Linked DNA regions of Homo sapiens: region 2 is linked to region 1. Evidence: fine-mapped expression QTL. Tissue or cell type: aorta. Region 1 holds a variant in brackets; the other region holds the start of a gene. All regions are shown on one strand. Distances are between the middles of the regions.

The links. PIP is the estimated chance that this variant, and not a neighbour inherited with it, causes the effect.
Region 2: it holds the start of RNF32, and the variant in region 1 is fine-mapped to the expression of RNF32 in aorta (GTEx, PIP above 0.99). The same link has a PIP of 0.9 or more in adrenal gland, atrial appendage, breast, cerebellar hemisphere, cerebellum and esophagus mucosa.

What each region holds. Positions count from the first base shown.
Region 1 is chr7:156,675,976-156,684,160 of GRCh38, forward strand. RNF32 (ring finger protein 32) reads left to right here. Exons shown (of 9, transcript NM_030936.4): 9 at 444-1,155. The coding sequence ends at 680. LMBR1 (limb development membrane protein 1) reads right to left here. Exons shown (of 17, transcript NM_022458.4): 17 at 1,816-8,185. The coding sequence ends at 8,103. Among named protein-coding and RNA genes, the nearest start is that of RNF32-AS1, 20 kb to the left of the region's middle. The variant C/T (reference allele first, on the strand shown) is at 3,295.
Region 2 is chr7:156,636,360-156,644,544 of GRCh38, forward strand. It overlaps RNF32 (ring finger protein 32), which reads left to right and starts at 4,415. Exons shown (of 9, transcript NM_030936.4): 1 at 4,415-4,452; 2 at 7,442-7,533; 3 at 8,140-8,185. The coding sequence starts at 7,519. It overlaps RNF32-DT (RNF32 divergent transcript), which reads right to left and starts at 4,176. Exons shown (of 4, transcript NR_026865.2): 1 at 2,589-4,176. RefSeq lists an enhancer at 3,846-4,437 and a silencer at 4,006-4,315.

The DNA.
Region 1 (8,185 bases):
CAGGCCCGGGGTGCAGCCGTGGAGGCTGTGGGGGTGGCATGTCGGGGGAGGTCGAGGACTCACTTTGGGAAGCCTAGGAGTGTCAGTCCCGGGGTAACCGCTGCCCTAGCTGCCCCTGCACCTGTGGTAGGACTTTCCTCATGGGCTTTAGGGTGACGGCAAAGGTCCCTTCAGTTTGAAATTCTGGAAGTTCCTGTTGGATGTTGCTTATCACAGGTGGGTTACTAACCCTTTCCACAGTTCCCAGGAGTAACAGAGTATATGTGTGTGTATATATATATGTATATATATAAATAAAATGCATGTGATTTTAACACAGAATGAAACTTCCGCATGTTTCGAAGACCCATGTCTCGGGGCACATGGTTCGCATTTCAGTTTAAGTAACTTTCTGCTGTGATGAAACTAACCCGCGTGGCCTCTTCCCGTCCTGTGTGCCGCAGGCTCTGCGCCGGGAGACCCACGAGTGCTCCATCTGCCTGGCCCCTCTCTCCGCTGCTGGCGGTCAGCGCGTGGGTGCAGGCAGGCGTTCCAGAGAGATGGCCCTCCTGTCCTGCTCACATGTGTTCCACCATGCGTGTCTGCTGGCACTAGAGGAGTTCTCCGTGGGAGACAGGCCTCCTTTCCATGCCTGTCCTCTCTGCCGCTCCTGCTACCAGAAGAAGATTCTTGAATGTTGAATTCATAGTCAAGGAAAGTTAGGTAATTCTGAGGAAAAAAGTTTACCATCATTTTGGATGAACTGCATGAGTTCTGGGTTAAGTACTACAATGTAATCTGTTTCCCAGGGAAATAAGCTATTGGTAGTTGTAGGAAATCTTAGTATATTTTAAAAGCTGACATCCCACCTAATTTTAATCTTTGGTCTCTAAAAAGTAAATTTCAAATTTATGAGTTTAATCACTTCAAATATGAATAGCAAAAAATGAGAGCTTGCTTACTTCTAAAAATTGAGGTTAAGATATAGCTAGTGTCTGAACGACACTCCTTAAAGTAAGTTCCAAATGTAAAACACTCCTTAAGTTCCAAATGTTTTCCGCTAATAGTCTGTCCTAAAGCCTTTGCCATTCCTAATACTCGTTTTGTAATAATTGCTGTATTTCTGTGTAATAAAATATAAAAATAAAATATTCAGTGGTATTCAACATCAAAAAAGTGCAAATTTTAATGTCTTAGAGCAATAAAGACTGTTTTAGTTCACACATTTTAAAAAAAAGTGAACCTTTTTGGATAAGAATTGTTTTTGTCACTGGTTTACTATTACTGGGAGCTTGGTTATTTACAGTAACCAGTTACAGTCTCATCGGTTAGGTTACCCCTAGCCGAGTAACAGATAAAGCCCCAACTCTCAGTGGCTCGCTGAAGACACATGATTTCTGAGGTGTCCAACCCATGTCAGCCATGGGTGAGGCAGGGCGAGGGTACACCATGTGTGACCCTGGCTCCTTTTGTCTTGTGACACAGTCTCCTTTGCCCCCGAGTCCCCAGTGAATCCTGTCACTGCTGGTGGAGGGGCAGGAGGACATTGTTCCAGGCCATGCTTGGGAGTGGCGCTCATCACTCCAGCCACAGTAACTACAAGGGGCAAGGAAAGGGCAGGGTGTAGGCCTAAGAGGAAGAGGCCAAGTGGGTGTGCACATGGCATGGGCTCAGAATAACCCAGCATCTAATGTGAGAAGAAATGCCAAAATTTCTATTTATTCTTATCTCATCCCTTAGAAAAAATACTCTCCTATGTTTTGTGATGTACACATTATATAGCTACATATGTATGTATCATTTATGAATAAATATGCATATATTGGGATGTGCTCATTTTTTAAGGATGTATACTATCAAAAAATTTGCAGACTAATTTGGAGAATGCTTTAAACAATGAGTAAGCACTTTTATTCTAAGAGAGCAGAGGGAAACTGAATCACAGAACCTCAATTTTCTGTAAGCTGACATCTCTCTCCCCATAGCGTTGACAGGCAAAGCACAGGCACGTGTCAAAGGCCAGAGCAGTCCGATTCCGCCGCCCTAAACTTTGGATCTAGAAGGAGAGTCCCGGAGATACATGGATCATTCAGTGATGGGAAGAGCCCAGGAAAGGTTGTGCCTAAGGCTGTGCCCAACACTTCTTCCGGGGCTTTCTCATCACATCTGTGAGCCATGCCATCCACCCCGTAAACCTTCCGTGCCTATGTTGGCAGAGTCCATCTCTATTCTTTGCAACCAAGTGCAGTACTTTACTGACACAGGAACTAGTGTTAGTTGCAGGCAACAGATACTTAGGAAAATCGGTGGGATGAAAGGCAGGAATGGTCATCTAACTTCACTGAGGATGAGGGTCGCGAAAATCCCATGAGTTCTGAGGAATGGTCCAGGGCAGCCTGTGACAGTTAACAGAAAATCAGGCAATTTTCTTACTGAAAAGTGGCCATGGAATGGCGCGCCCATCGAAAGCTTGCGAGACCAAGTTGCAACCACAGAACGCTAAAAAGGACCTGAATGAAGTAGCTACTTCTCTGGACAATTTGAAGATAACGCCACATTGTCAGGTCAAGTCAGGAAAACAGTGCAAGCTTTTATACAATTACTCCACAGCCTCATCAGGTCTCTTCTATAAAAACTGGGACACTGACCAAGAAAGAGTGGGGCCTTTGGAAACATGAGTTCATGGGAGGACTCAGCGGACAGGGAGAGCCCTGTCTGCTGCCCTCATTGTGTCTTCCTGGTCAGCTACAGCAGTCCCTACGGGATGTGGCCATTCCTCCCTTATTTTAACAGGTTGGAACCCACTTGTCTGACAGTCACCTTGCAAGATGAAGCCACTTCTTGTGCCTTCTCACACATCCCTTTTTGCCTTTAAATCCACTTAATTAGGAGCCTACCATTCCATGGGCGGGGGGAATCATTAAATCACTATCAAGTCCAGAAAGAGAATTCTTAGCGAATTGTGGGACTGGAGGCATTTGATAAGAATAAAGGTTATAATCTAGAATGAGGATACCTGTCATGAATCTTTATCAACCAGATAATAGAACTGTAAGGTACATGAATGAACAAGAAACTGAAAACCTAAAACAAAGAAAAAATGAGACTGCGGTTGTACTGGCCTGTATTTACATCCAGTTCATCTGCCCACTGTAAGCGTGACCCCAGGCAAATGTCTGCAGCTTTCTCAGTGGCGTTCCTTGTCGGTAAAATGCAGATGTGTATTTTCGGCTTCGCAAGGTGGTCCTGGGGGTGACTGTGGGACGACAAAGAACTCGACCCTCCACACCACGCCCCAGGCCCCTCTCACCACCC[C/T]TGCTTCCAAGTCTTTGATGAGATTCCACAGTAAAGACTAAAAAGAAAAGAAAAAGTGAATCACTCTTCAGACTGAAGGATAGCCAGGCCAGAGAGGTGGCGAGGAGGAAGTGAGCAGGAGGAGGACGATGCTCCACTTGTCACTTAGTTCTCTGACTCTACTGTGGAGTCCATATAGAACAACTGTGGATGACTTCAAGATGCTGTTAAAGAGAAGTTGCAGAATCAATATAAATAGCTACAGCAGTATCAAATATGCTTGGTTCTGAAGTGTCAGTGTTTGTAAGCGGCATCGTTCATTCAGTAACAGCTTTTCAAAGGAAAGGAAAGGAGAAGACATTACAACAGCCACAAAACAGTTTTAGTAACTGTTAAAACTTCAGTTCTCAGACCCATAGCCCACACGTGACTCTCCACCTCCTCACACTCAGACACAACAGATTCTTCTACATCACTCTAGTCCTCCACAACCACTCACATCAGGGCCGCCCTGCTGTTCATAATCCAGGCTCATAAACTTGACTTCTGTACCACCTTTAGAAGTAACAGCAGAACACCAAATCCATATCCAAGAATAATGAGGTTTTGTGTGAAGTTCCTATTTGATTATAGTTAACCTTGAAAAAATTTTTTCCTAATTAAAGAACACAGAATTGGAAGTTAAATAACTTCTCTTGAAAAGGTAAGTTTATTGCCTAATATTCCTTCAAGACATATGGATCAATCACCAAGTTTTGAAATTTTGTATATATTTGTGAGTTTTAGGAACTTCTCCTGATATTACATTTTCTACAGTGCAACAAGTAATTTGCGTACACAGTACTTTTGCTTCAGTTGTGTTTGCAGCAATAATTTTTACCTAAACAATATTCAAAAACCAAAAAAAAAAAAAACTCCAAAAAGGTCTTTGTATTATTTCTTCTTTTAAACCACATTCCAAAGGGATGCTTTTCAAACTGAAGTCTGCCATCTATTAGGAGGCCACAAAGTAACTTAGTGTCTGTGTCTAGTATTTTTAAAAATAATAAAACAGAAGATGCCAGCATGCACACTTAGGAAAAACAAGTACTGTCTTGTTAAATTTTTGCTTATACGTATCTGAGAGACAGAGAGAGAGAGAGAGAGAGAGAGAGAGTGTGTGTGTGTGTGTGTGTGTAATGGGTTATTTCTTACTGTGGTCAAAAAGTTGAAAGCCACTGTAAGTAGGCTTCTGTCTGCCAGTAAATTAACCAGATGCTAACAGCATTTATTCTTCCAGGAACTCTGGGTTAAGCTGTCCAGACCACAAGTAGGTGCTGTTCAGTCCTTTTATGGAAAAAATTAGAGAAATCAAGTCTAAATAATTCAAGTAATTAAATAAAATACATGCTATCAATTATTGATGCTACATTGTGGGTTATAAGAAATTGATCTACCAATAACTGCACAACAGAGAAAGAAAATATCCATTTCTTAATTCAACATTCATCAGAATAATTACTGCCCTCTATAAAACTGAAATGGAATTAAACTATAAATACCCTTAAGTTTTAGCCATGATAATATTTAAGATGGAAAAAACAAAAGAACAAATAAACCCCACATATAAATGCTTATAAACCAAATATGAAATCACTTTTTGTACAACTTTTAATTTCTAAGACATTTAAAAAGTCACACTAAAAGTATCTCATAGAAACAAAGACTAACAATTTGTAAACAAAACAATCTGTAAACAAAAATCAATTACTAGTGTGTCCAAATGTTATTTTTAAAAGTTAACATTATACCAGTTTTTTCAAGTTTAAAAAGTCGGTGCTGCATCTATGTTCACATTAAAAAAAAAAACTTGTAAGAATTCTGCCTTTATGCATTAAATAACGTGCTACCAACAAAACTAGCACATAAGAGCCTGTAAATGATGAAAACCTGTGTCCCTGGCAGACGAGGTCATCACTGAGGCTGCAGGGAGGGCCATGGGCACCCAGCAGATGGGGAGGCCGCACTGCCGCTGAGAGCAGGTACACGTGCGCCTTTAACACATCTGAGAGCAAAACGCGAGAGGCTCCGTCCATCTCTACTAACCAGCACCTTAGTGCAGCAATTTAAGGAGCTAACATTAGTGTGTATGTGTGTACAAATTTCATGTAAAGCCTCATATTTAGAGGTCTATTTTTACAGAGAATGTACATAAAGCTACGTAAATAGTAAATCTAAGAAGTATCTTGGAAAATCAGTAAAAATTAATACAAATGTTATAATCTGAAAACTTATAATTGTAAAATAATTTATTTAAGTATTGCAGAACCAATTAATAAGAATCTGCAAGTTTTCCCCAAGAAACTCTGGAACCATAGTGCCTAATGCCCTTTAAAATCGATACTAAAGGAGAGAGAATAAAAGGACTGCTTGATGTGACAGTCACTGGTGCATCCCTATCCAGTCAGAAACAAAACTGTAGCTCCAGAATTGACCTGATGATGAGCATCTGCAGCTCTGCCTTCCAGGGTCTATCTCCTCTCTTTCACTGGCGTGCAGGAACTGCAGTAAAATGAGGACCCCCAGAGCGACTGTCCTTACCAGGACTCAGAACGTTTGGCCTCCGTATTCTGGCATCCATTTCTGGAGTTCGTCATATAAAGCAGCCTCCGACCTAGCTCCAATGGAAGCACCTGCATTTGGAGTCAGTCTCTCCAGAGGCAGATGCTTGGGCATGTGCTCAGGAAGAGCCTCGAGGAACCGTGATTACGCAGCAGCCCAAGGCTGTAACAATCTATTTGTTCTCAAGGCATATGAGTCCCAGGTTCGAAGCCGTCCTTCCACCCCATGCATATCCTTTGCTTCAACAGCAGTGAGGATGCCTCCAGGAAGTGTATTGTACTCAGGGCTTACAAATCCAAAACTGGCTTAAGTCCTCGGATGGAGAGAAACTTCCAAATGAACAAAAAGTTGAGCTAAACACTGAAAAGTTTAGTATTTTACTTAAAAATTTTCAGACATTTTCCAAGTATCTAGGAACTCTTTGGATGTGCCTGAAAGTGGTGTAAGTGAGAAGTGATATTACTCTACTCCTGAGTTTCTTTCTGTTCTTCCCTTCACTTGGTCTGCTCAAAGTATGGACTCCAAGCTTCACTAAAAATCAAACCTGGCAATTAATACTTCAATAGGCATAACAATGAAATTGGAAAAGAGCTGAATTTTATTAACTTTTTAGGTATGTCGATTTTATGCTGAGAAATTCACCAGTACTATACTGGTGGTATTTACTGAAGCTTGTTTAGAATCACAAAATGAATGTTCTTTTATTTTAAAACCAAGCTGCATTTTAGAAAGATGTGAAGCTCGGAAGGAAATGCAGACGTATAAATAAGGGGGAAGTGTACTCAACAAAGGTTGTAAATATACAGATTAAAGTTTCTTATTATTTTGGTTTAAAGTGGAAATTTCTGATGTCAAATAGACACAGCCTGCGTTTCATAAATTTCTCCCAGAAAACCTTTAAATGTAACAATTTGAAAAAAATGTTTTACTTTTGTCTGAACACAGACCATCTATTTTCATACACACAGTGCATGTGAACATATTTATATAGCAGACTGCATAACTACGAATTGTGTGCAAATGGGCCCATCTCCTATTTTTGCATGCACAGATTTCGGTATTCTATCCTAGTGGATGGTTGACACAGAGTGCAATTTCATAGTTTTTATTCAGTGGACTTAAAGCCAAGAAACCATCCCAATAATTATTTACAATTTAATAACTGAATGATTATCAGATCGTGTTATACTGCAAAACTGTTCTTACACCATGAATGCTGATGCTGTGAACTTTGGATGTTAAACTGGTAAAAGCTGGAGGCTTCAAATGGCATATGCAAATGTAACCAAAGCCTGAGGACTATGAAGAAAGAGGAGTTTCTACCACTCGGCATTTATAGTTTTTATATGCATTGCAGAAGCATGGGGAATTAAGTGATCTCTGAAAAAAATGCTTTAAAAAACTGAGTATACATATAGCCTATAAGGTAAAAATCCAAGTTACAAGTGTATTAAACACTGGCAACTATGTTATCAGAGGGAATACTGAATTATATATATACATAAACTGTCATTAAACTGTGATTACATGATACTTCCTACCACAGCTTATTAGACTGTACAACAGAAGATATTCCTGTGGCTCTCTAAGGCTCCAGGTTTAAAAGAATTTAGTATTTTCCCCTTGGCTCAAAGTCTAATCAGTATCATTCTATAACATAAATCAGAAACTACGCTTTTTGCTTTTAAGGAAATAAGAAACATAATTGCAACCATTACAGCTCCAACATACACTGCAAAAATGATATCTACAAGCAGTTGCCATTGCATTTGAAAAATGCATTTTCTGAATAAGCTTCACTTAGTACCAAGGATGCCTTTCAAGTCAGCTTCTACATTCTGAATAAAGTACATAATGGGATTTAAGTAAATCTTTAGAAGTCCCGGAGTTTGCCTTTTCTAACATTTTCATATCAGGTGAAAACAATTTTTTCATATGGGTGATTGTATTTACCAACATGAGCAAATGTCTACAGAAGAATGCGCTGTTCTATATGTCTGTAAGGAATCTGCACTTAACTGGAAACTACAGGGTCCATCAGAAAGTTAAATTTAAAAAAGATCAGCCATAGCCAAGTTCTTCGTAGATTATGAAAAAAAAATGGCACTGATAGGTCTAGGTTCTGAAGAGGGGCCACGGTTGAATGGAAATGCTTCTACATGGGACAGGAATGTCGTGAATCTGGAGTTCTCGGGTCTCTTGGTGGCAGAAGACGCCGTCTGTGCGTCTCACAGTGCTTTCTGATGCCCATTTACAGAAGGCTTGGCTGTTTCTGAATCCCTTGAAGTATTTGGTAAGTGAAGTTTATGAA
Region 2 (8,185 bases), 40 kb before region 1:
GAGATTTGTGTGGGGACACAGCCAAACCACATCAGCAAGTTAGGAATAGAAATTGATAATAAATATACAAGTGTGGGAGGAGGGATAGCATTGGGAGATATACCTCATGCCAGATGACGTGTTAGTGGGTGCAGCGCACCAGCATGGCACATGTATACATATGTAACTAACCTGCACATTGTGCACATGTACCCTAAAACTTAAAGAATAATAATAAAGAAAGAAAAAATAAATAAATAAATAAATATACAAGTGTGAGTAGAAAGTTAAAGGTAATACAGAAGATTAAGAAAAATAAATGGAGAGATGGTTTTGGTGAAGGTTAAAATTGAGAACTAAATTAAAGATGAACCCCATGCCACCAATTTCTGCTCCTTAGGTTTGTTTTAGATGTCAAGGACTGTGTTAAGAGAGACAAGAGTCAAATAGGCACTGAGTAGGCTTTGAGAATATTTTGTACATAACAAAGGAGAAATGTGAGAGCATTAAGATACTAAAATGTGAGAAGGATATTGAACTAAGAACCATTCTGACCCTGCCTAGGCTTTCATTAGTGCAGTGTTTAGAGACTAGGCAGGTGGGCAAATTCAAATATTATGGGTATGATACATTAAGAATCCATAGGCCAGGCACGGTGGTTCACGCCTGTAATCCCAGCACTTTGGGAGGCCGAGGCAGGCGGATCACCTGAGGTCAGAAGTTCAAGACCAGCCTGGCCAACATAGCGAAACCCCGACTCTACTAAAAAATACAAAAATTAGCTAAGCGTGGTGACGGGCACCTGTAATCCCAGCTATTCGGGAGGCTAAGACAGGAGAATTACTTGATCCTGGGAGGCAGAAGTTGCAGTGAGCCGAGATGGCGCCACTGCATTCCAGCCTGGGCAACAGAGACTCTGTCTCAAAATAAATAAATAAATAAATAAATAAATAAATAAATAAATAAATAAATAAAAATACAGGGCCAGCACTAGTATCCAATATCATGATCTCTAGTGTCATCATGAAGAAAACCCCATCTTCCACAAGCTGGACTCCAACTGCCTATTCTAGTATTTGAACACTTTCTGTGAATTGCGCTCTACACAAGCAAAATATAAGATTTTCCCTTCATATCAATGTCTTCCACTTAAATAGTCCGCTATTGCCATCCATCTTGGGCTGCTCTTCCTTGGATAAGCACAGGTATCATCACTCTTTTTGTGATAATGTTTATACAACAGATCTCTTAGAGTACCACCCGCAGCTTTCTTCTTAAGCACAGTGGAGTACAGAAGTGCATCTTAATCAGCCAAGTACACTGGTGCCCTTCTCCTTGTGACTAAGCACCTCAACATCCTTAACATCATGCACCTCTAATTTTCTCTTCCGTCTCCACTATTCCTAGGACATTCAATTAGTGGTTTTGAAATTCTAAAACAATCATGTGGGTGCTTACACAAATGGCACTGAACAGCACCATGGAGAATGTACTCAATAGCAGTTTTCTGAAGATGTAAACATGCTTTGTATACATGCAGTTTCTCAGGCCCATCTCAAAAAAACAAAAAAACTTTTTTAAAACAAAAGGCATAATGTTAAAATACAAATCATTGATAACATGGTTTTGGGGACAAGATAGGTTGACTATATTTTTAATTATCCCTATCCAAGAATGTTGCATTCTGATCATCTAACTCATTTCAACAGAACACACTATCTTGAAGAATGAATGTATTCTTCAAATATCAACTATGTTAGCTTTGTTTTTGTCAAGAATTAGAAAGCAATAAGGTTAAATTTTCAGTCAAGCCTATACTTAACACAAATCGATTGCACATTTCAAAATAGCTAGAATAATTTGAATGTTCCTAGTGTAAATAGAAGATAAATATTTAAGGGGATGGATATCCCAATTACCCTGATTTGATTTTATGAATTTATCGAATTATCACGTTATCCAAAAACATGTTCATCTAATATGTATCAATAAAAAATAAATTTAAAAATAAAAAATTCACAATATTCTTCGTGGCTAACTGAAGAATGACCAATTTATTTTGAATAGAAAACATGCAGACAGAAAAACTATCATGAAAATTTAAACATGTGAACAGAGGGTAGGAATTTTAAAACGGTAATTTTTCTTAGAACTTTAAAGTTCAAGAAAAATACCTTAAAACCAACATAAAGAATAGCAGGCACTGTACTAAGCAGTTCACCCACAGTATCATGTTTTAATCTCACCACAGCCATAAGGCGGTAATAGCATGCATAGATATCATTCCAATTTTTCCTGTTGCAAGTAACAGAAAACCAGACCCCATCTGGCTGAAGCCAGTAAGAGAAAAGACTAACAGGAGGGCCAGCCTCAGGACTCAAATACGTCACCAGGACATGGGTTGCGTCCCAGTCTCAGCTCTGCCAGTTCCTGTAGAACCCTCCTTCCAAGGTTCACAGGGTGGCTACCATAGCTTCAGGCCCTCACCTCATGATAAGACAGCAATACAACTGCCATTTCATGTCTGTTGCTGTTTCTACATTCAGTTAGAATTAAATAAATTTTCCAGTAGCACCCACAAAAATACTGAGTCCACCTGGTTGGCCTACCTAGATATATCGCCAGCCCTGATCAAGTCACTGGTCACGGGCCTGGATTTTCTGGTTCGCTTAGGCTAATCATACGTCCCATCCCAGGACTGAAGAAGTACCAGGGCTGTTGCTGGAGAGTGGCTAATGTCCCCTTTACAAATAAGGAGCTCATGGTTTAGGAAGATGAGCTTGCCAAAAATCACACACTTGTAAAATAAGTCAAAATTTGAACTTAAGTCTACTTATCTGAGCCCAAAGTCTTACAACCATTTATGGCTGTTATCCTAACACCTACGTCGCGGAACGGAAGAGTCCTAAGACTGCAAAGACCCTTCCTTTTCTTCTAGATCCAGTCTAAGTTGGTTGGTAATTTCTTTAGACCCTGCTTTCAGGGAAGTTTAAAAAAAATTACTTGCATTTGTATATTTTCCTTGTATTTTCGGCCAAATTTCTTCTAATTAAAGTACAACATAAGTTGAACCAACACAATAATTGTCATATTAAGAAAAGATAAAACAAACTTTACTCATTTCTGCTTCTGGGCATGGAGTGTGAGGGACCAGACTTAAGTTCTCAAACAACTACAAAATCAGACCAAAAAATACAATGGTTTCCAGGCACCGGACGACAGGCAGTGCAGGGCTGTGATCCTTAAGAGAAGGGAAGCAGCGAGCCAGAGTATCCAGGCCACAACCCAAATGGAGGCCAAGAGAGGAACAGCAGAGGATACAGAGGGAGGGTTCCAGGGGCCAAGACGCAATCCGAGGGGAAGCCCTTCCGGGGAGAGCTGGAGTCCTGGGGTGGCCTTCTCGAGTCTTCCCGAGCAGGTCTGTGCAGCGAGGAAACATCCGAGGCTGGAGTGAGCCACGCGGAGGAGGAAGAACAGCCCGAGCTCACAGGGGCGGGGAAGAGTTCTAGCTCGCGACAGCCCCTGGGAGGAACCCTGCACTATTTGTGGCGTCGAGTAAAGCACCGGAAGGCTCTGCTCAGGAGCGTGAACGACACCGCCCGCTGCAAGCCTGGAAAGGAACGCGTTGCCTCAATTCACTCCGATGTGTCACACACGCGGCTCAGTCACCTAGGGAGCAGGAAAAGGCCAGCGGGCCACGCAGGGCTCACCCGGGCCTGCATCCAAACGCAAACGGCCAGGCCCACGAAGCAGGAAACACAACCCGCAACGAGAAGCAAAGGGATCCACAGAGAAGGGCCAGGAGTCACGGACGACGCCAGGCAGTCGGCGCCTGCGCTTCCGCGAGCCAAGACGCCTGAGCGGCGCGGGGGGATCGGGGGATCCCCCAGAAAACTGCCCTCGACTAACAGCGCAGCGAAGGGGCGGTGCGCTCGAGACCCTGGAACGGGAACGACCACAGCCACCGCAGGGAAACAACCGGGGCCCAGGCCCAGGTGGGCGGGCGGCTGAGGAGCGTGGCTGCGCCCACAAAGCCGCCGGGGGCTGCGGACTACAGCGAAGCCGGCGCGGGGCTCGGCCCTCACTACACGAGGCCTGGGCGCCTGCACGCCCCCGTGCTTCAGCCCGCGGCTCCCGAACACCCCCGCCAGGCGATCCCCAAAAACGCCCGCTGCGCGAGCCTCGACGGGAACGCACCTGCGTCTAGACGCTGACGCCGTGCGCGGGGCGGGGGCCGGCGAGCATGCGCAGTGTGGTGTGGACAGGGCGTGGTTGGCAAGCATGCGCAATGTGGGCCGGGCGGGGCTGGCGAGCATGCGCAGTATGGGGCGGGGCGGGGCAGGGCTGGTGAGCAAGCCCGCGGGGAGCGAGCGCGGAGGCGGGCGTTGCTACGGCAACGGTGGGCGGCCAGGGAGTTGCCTGAGGGAAAAGGGGCAGACGTCCCTGGGTTCCGGTGTTCGCGGAGGAGTCGAGGCACGGAGAGGCTTCGGGGGAGGGACGGAAAGAAGGGTGGCCCGCCAGGCGGGCGGGGTCCATGGATTCGGGGTGAGGGCCGTCCGCGGCCTCGCTTTCGCCTCCTCCGAGCCGGGCCGGCGATGGCCGCAGCTGTGAGGCGAGGTCGGGTCCCGTAGCGGCGCGCAGCCTCCTTGGGGGACTCGGGGTCCTGGTTAGTTTCCACAGCTCCTTCTATCTGAGGGGTACGAATTTACGGCTGCCTAAAGCCTTAGAACAGTGATCCCACGTCGGTAATTTTAGAACCCGGTAGGACCGGCTGCCATCAGGGGCCCCAGGTGCAGGGTGGTGTCAGCTTTGAGAGGAATTGGAGCCTCGTCACCGCGCGCTTCCTGCATGAGTGGAACCTCAGAAAACGGTCAGCGGGGTTCAGAAGGCAGGAGATAACACCAAGACCCTACGTAGGATTGCATCTTTACGTCGTAGGCTTGGTCTCGTGTATTTTTATTGAGCGTGTTTAATTAGCTGAGGTTACTCGCTTTGGCACCCCAGTGATCGTTTTTGCCACCAAGCTCTGCCTCTTGAGCGTTTAATACTGGGATTTACAAAGCAACGGGTTCCTGTTAATCTTAGCTTTCAATACTGGGCAAGGGTTACGTTTCTAACCCTACCAGTGCCGCAGGCTCATTATATATTGAAGGACTCACCTGGTATTTGGTTTTCTCATTTATAAAGTGGAGTTGGAGTAGGTACTTGAAGGGTTTTCAATACCTTTAAATTCTGAATTTTAAACTCTAAAACTTAATGATACCGTAGGACTTTAAGAGAGTATAGGTTTTAAAAGCTCTTACCTTGATATTAATGACAGTGGTCTACTGTGTAGAAACTTGAGATTAAATTGCAGACTGCAGCTATGACCGGACCATTTTTAGTGTGATGCAAACTGTATCTTCTGCAGGTTATAGGCATTTTGGAAGCAGGAACTGAGAAAATTCTGGCAGTGATCTTTCAGTATTTTAAATTCCACCATTTCTCCAAGTTCAGTTGTCTTGATGAGATACAGGGTGGAACTTATTTCAAACATCTCTTGATGCCAGAATTGAACGGGAACAGAAAAGGGCTGTAGTAAGAACCATCATCAAAGCCTCCAGGACTTGAGCAGCGACTGACGTTTTTACTTCTAACCCTGGATATCTCAGAGATTTGGTTCCACTGTGCTTTTCTATCTCTCCACTCACGCCTTAGTGAGTTTGTTCTTTCGGTTGGAGTAATTTAATACAAGTGTTAGTCCTTAGAAATACATTTTGGATTAATTTCTTTCTATTTTTAGAGTTAGGCCCTCAACACAGTAAGTCTTCACTTAACATCATCCATAGGTTCTTAGAAACTGGAGCTTTAAGCCATGCAGTGTACAAGGAAACCAGTTTCACCATAGGTTAATTGATATAAATAAGAGGAAAGTTCCCACAGCACATTCCTGGTCACAAAAACATCGCCAAACTTCTAAATAAAGACCAAAGCACTTCTAATATGAAACACTGAAGTACATATGAGCTCTACATTTAAGAAATATCATTACCCAATTTCTGGTGAATCCATGAGTGACCGGGTTGTGGAGGGGCTGTGTTAAAGATAATGTTGGCCAAGCCAAAGCTCTGAAGCACCTCCCCCTACCATGCAGTTTCAAAACAAACAGGAGCCACTTCTCAGCCCGCTGGGCCTTTCTTACTGCATCGGGTATTGTCCTGCATCTCTGTGTGAATACCGTATGCTTTACGAGTTTTTATTTGACAATAATTTGTATCCTTTCATTTTCCAACCTGCTTATTCCAGTTCAGGGTGGCAGGGGGCTGAGCCCATCCAGGCAGCTCAGGACCAAGGCGGGCAACAGTCCTGGAGAGGACGGCATCCCATGGCAGGGCACACTCACACTCACTCAGACGGGGACGCCCCAGTGAGCCTCACGTGCACAGCTTTGGGATGTGGGAGGAACCCGGGGTACCTGGAGGAAACCCACAGCACATGGGGAGGACGTGCAAACTCCAAACAGACAGTGGCCCCTGCTGGGGATCAATTTTTTTTCTCATCAGCGTTATAGGGAAACAACATTAGAAGAAATATGTTCAAGGGCCTTCTGTGCCAGTTCCTAGATTACTTGAATAACTTTCTATTTCTCCTCATCACAGTATATTTTGAATACATCTGTCTTCATAAAATACACCATGTCCAAAATCTAAAAGGGCCAATTCCAAATTATTCCACCAGCTTTGAAGGGAATTGAAGCAAGAATAACAAGAGTAAGTTCTGTGTGAAAAGACCTACTTTAGATACTTCAAAGGTTGTCTCATTAATCCTTGCGGCAACCCTGCAAAGCCAGCGTTATTATACCTGCTTTATAGATGAGGAGCCTGGGGCTCAGCTGTGTCCAGTATCTTGCGCAGCAAAGCGGTAGAGTTCAATTGGAACTCAAGTTGGTCTGTCCCCATATTCTGTACTTCTGTGTTCTGGACAGACTGAAGTTAGCCAGTGTTCCTCTTGCGTTCCAGTTTCTTCATTGTTCCCTTTCTCCCCAAAATAAGCATATCATGCTGATTTCCAGCCTGCCAGTTCTTTCCTCCTACCTGTAATGTGCCATCTTCATTTCCCTCTGTGTATCTTTCAAATGCCAGTTTAACTGGTTTTTCCAAGTCTCCAGTGTTAGCCTGAAGTTTTGTAGTACTTATGTATCATGTTATATTTAGCAATGGATTAATTCATAGTAATTAACCATTTGTATTAATGTGTCCTCAGGAGCTCAGGGGTGAACTATTTGAGGACAGGGATGAGTCGAAGCATAACTGACTTGAGTTCACCCCCTTCCTCCAGAACCAGAATGTGTAGCTTAGTGCCACCCTGTAGCAGGCATTCCTGCTGCTTCAGGATCTGTTAGACTCTTACAGAGCATCCTCACAAACTTCATGGTTTTTCTGTGCACTGTAACTTTGACTTTCTGTTGACCACGTCTTTGCAGCAGAAGAATAGAAGGAAGGTGATAGGATGTGATGATAGAATTTGTGATAGCCAAGCAACAACTTTTCCTAATTCGGCATGTTAAAAAATAAGGTACGCTATTCTTTTCTTAAACATACACGTTATTTGACTCATGAAATGTATTTTAATTCAGCCATTTGAGAGTATAAAAACTAGTTTGCAAACCCTGCTTGAACTAGGAATTGTCAGCAGGAATGGGCGATGCCAAGTGTCGCATGGGGCAGTGGACAAGCCAATGGAAAAACAATCTCTGGCGATATTTACTGCAAGCATCTCTTAGCTGTTTGGTGATTTTTATTCTGCACAGGAAATTATTAAGTTTTCACAAAAAGGCATAAGCTGAAATGGCAGGAGTCTCCTTAGTAGTTGCCTGGAGTCTAATTTAATTATAGTGAAGCAGCGTGGGTTTGTTTAGGCATGCACAGGTTTATGGGTCATAATGAATTTATTCATATTATAATTAAGGCTTTCATAATTAAATGAAAAGATATTCCTGTATTGTTAACATAAATGCTGAGACAAGGGTCTGCTCCTACTTAGGTAACAATGAGTCAAGCATTCCTTACTATTTGATTTGGTTGTATGTGCCATCAAGGTTGAGTATTGAAGCCTCAGTTCTCTTCTAAATGATATATTACATAATACTCCTCTAAATATGACTTTTTTCCTACTTTTTAGGGTCACTCATCTAAGAAAGATAACTTGGCAGTCAATGCAGTTGCTT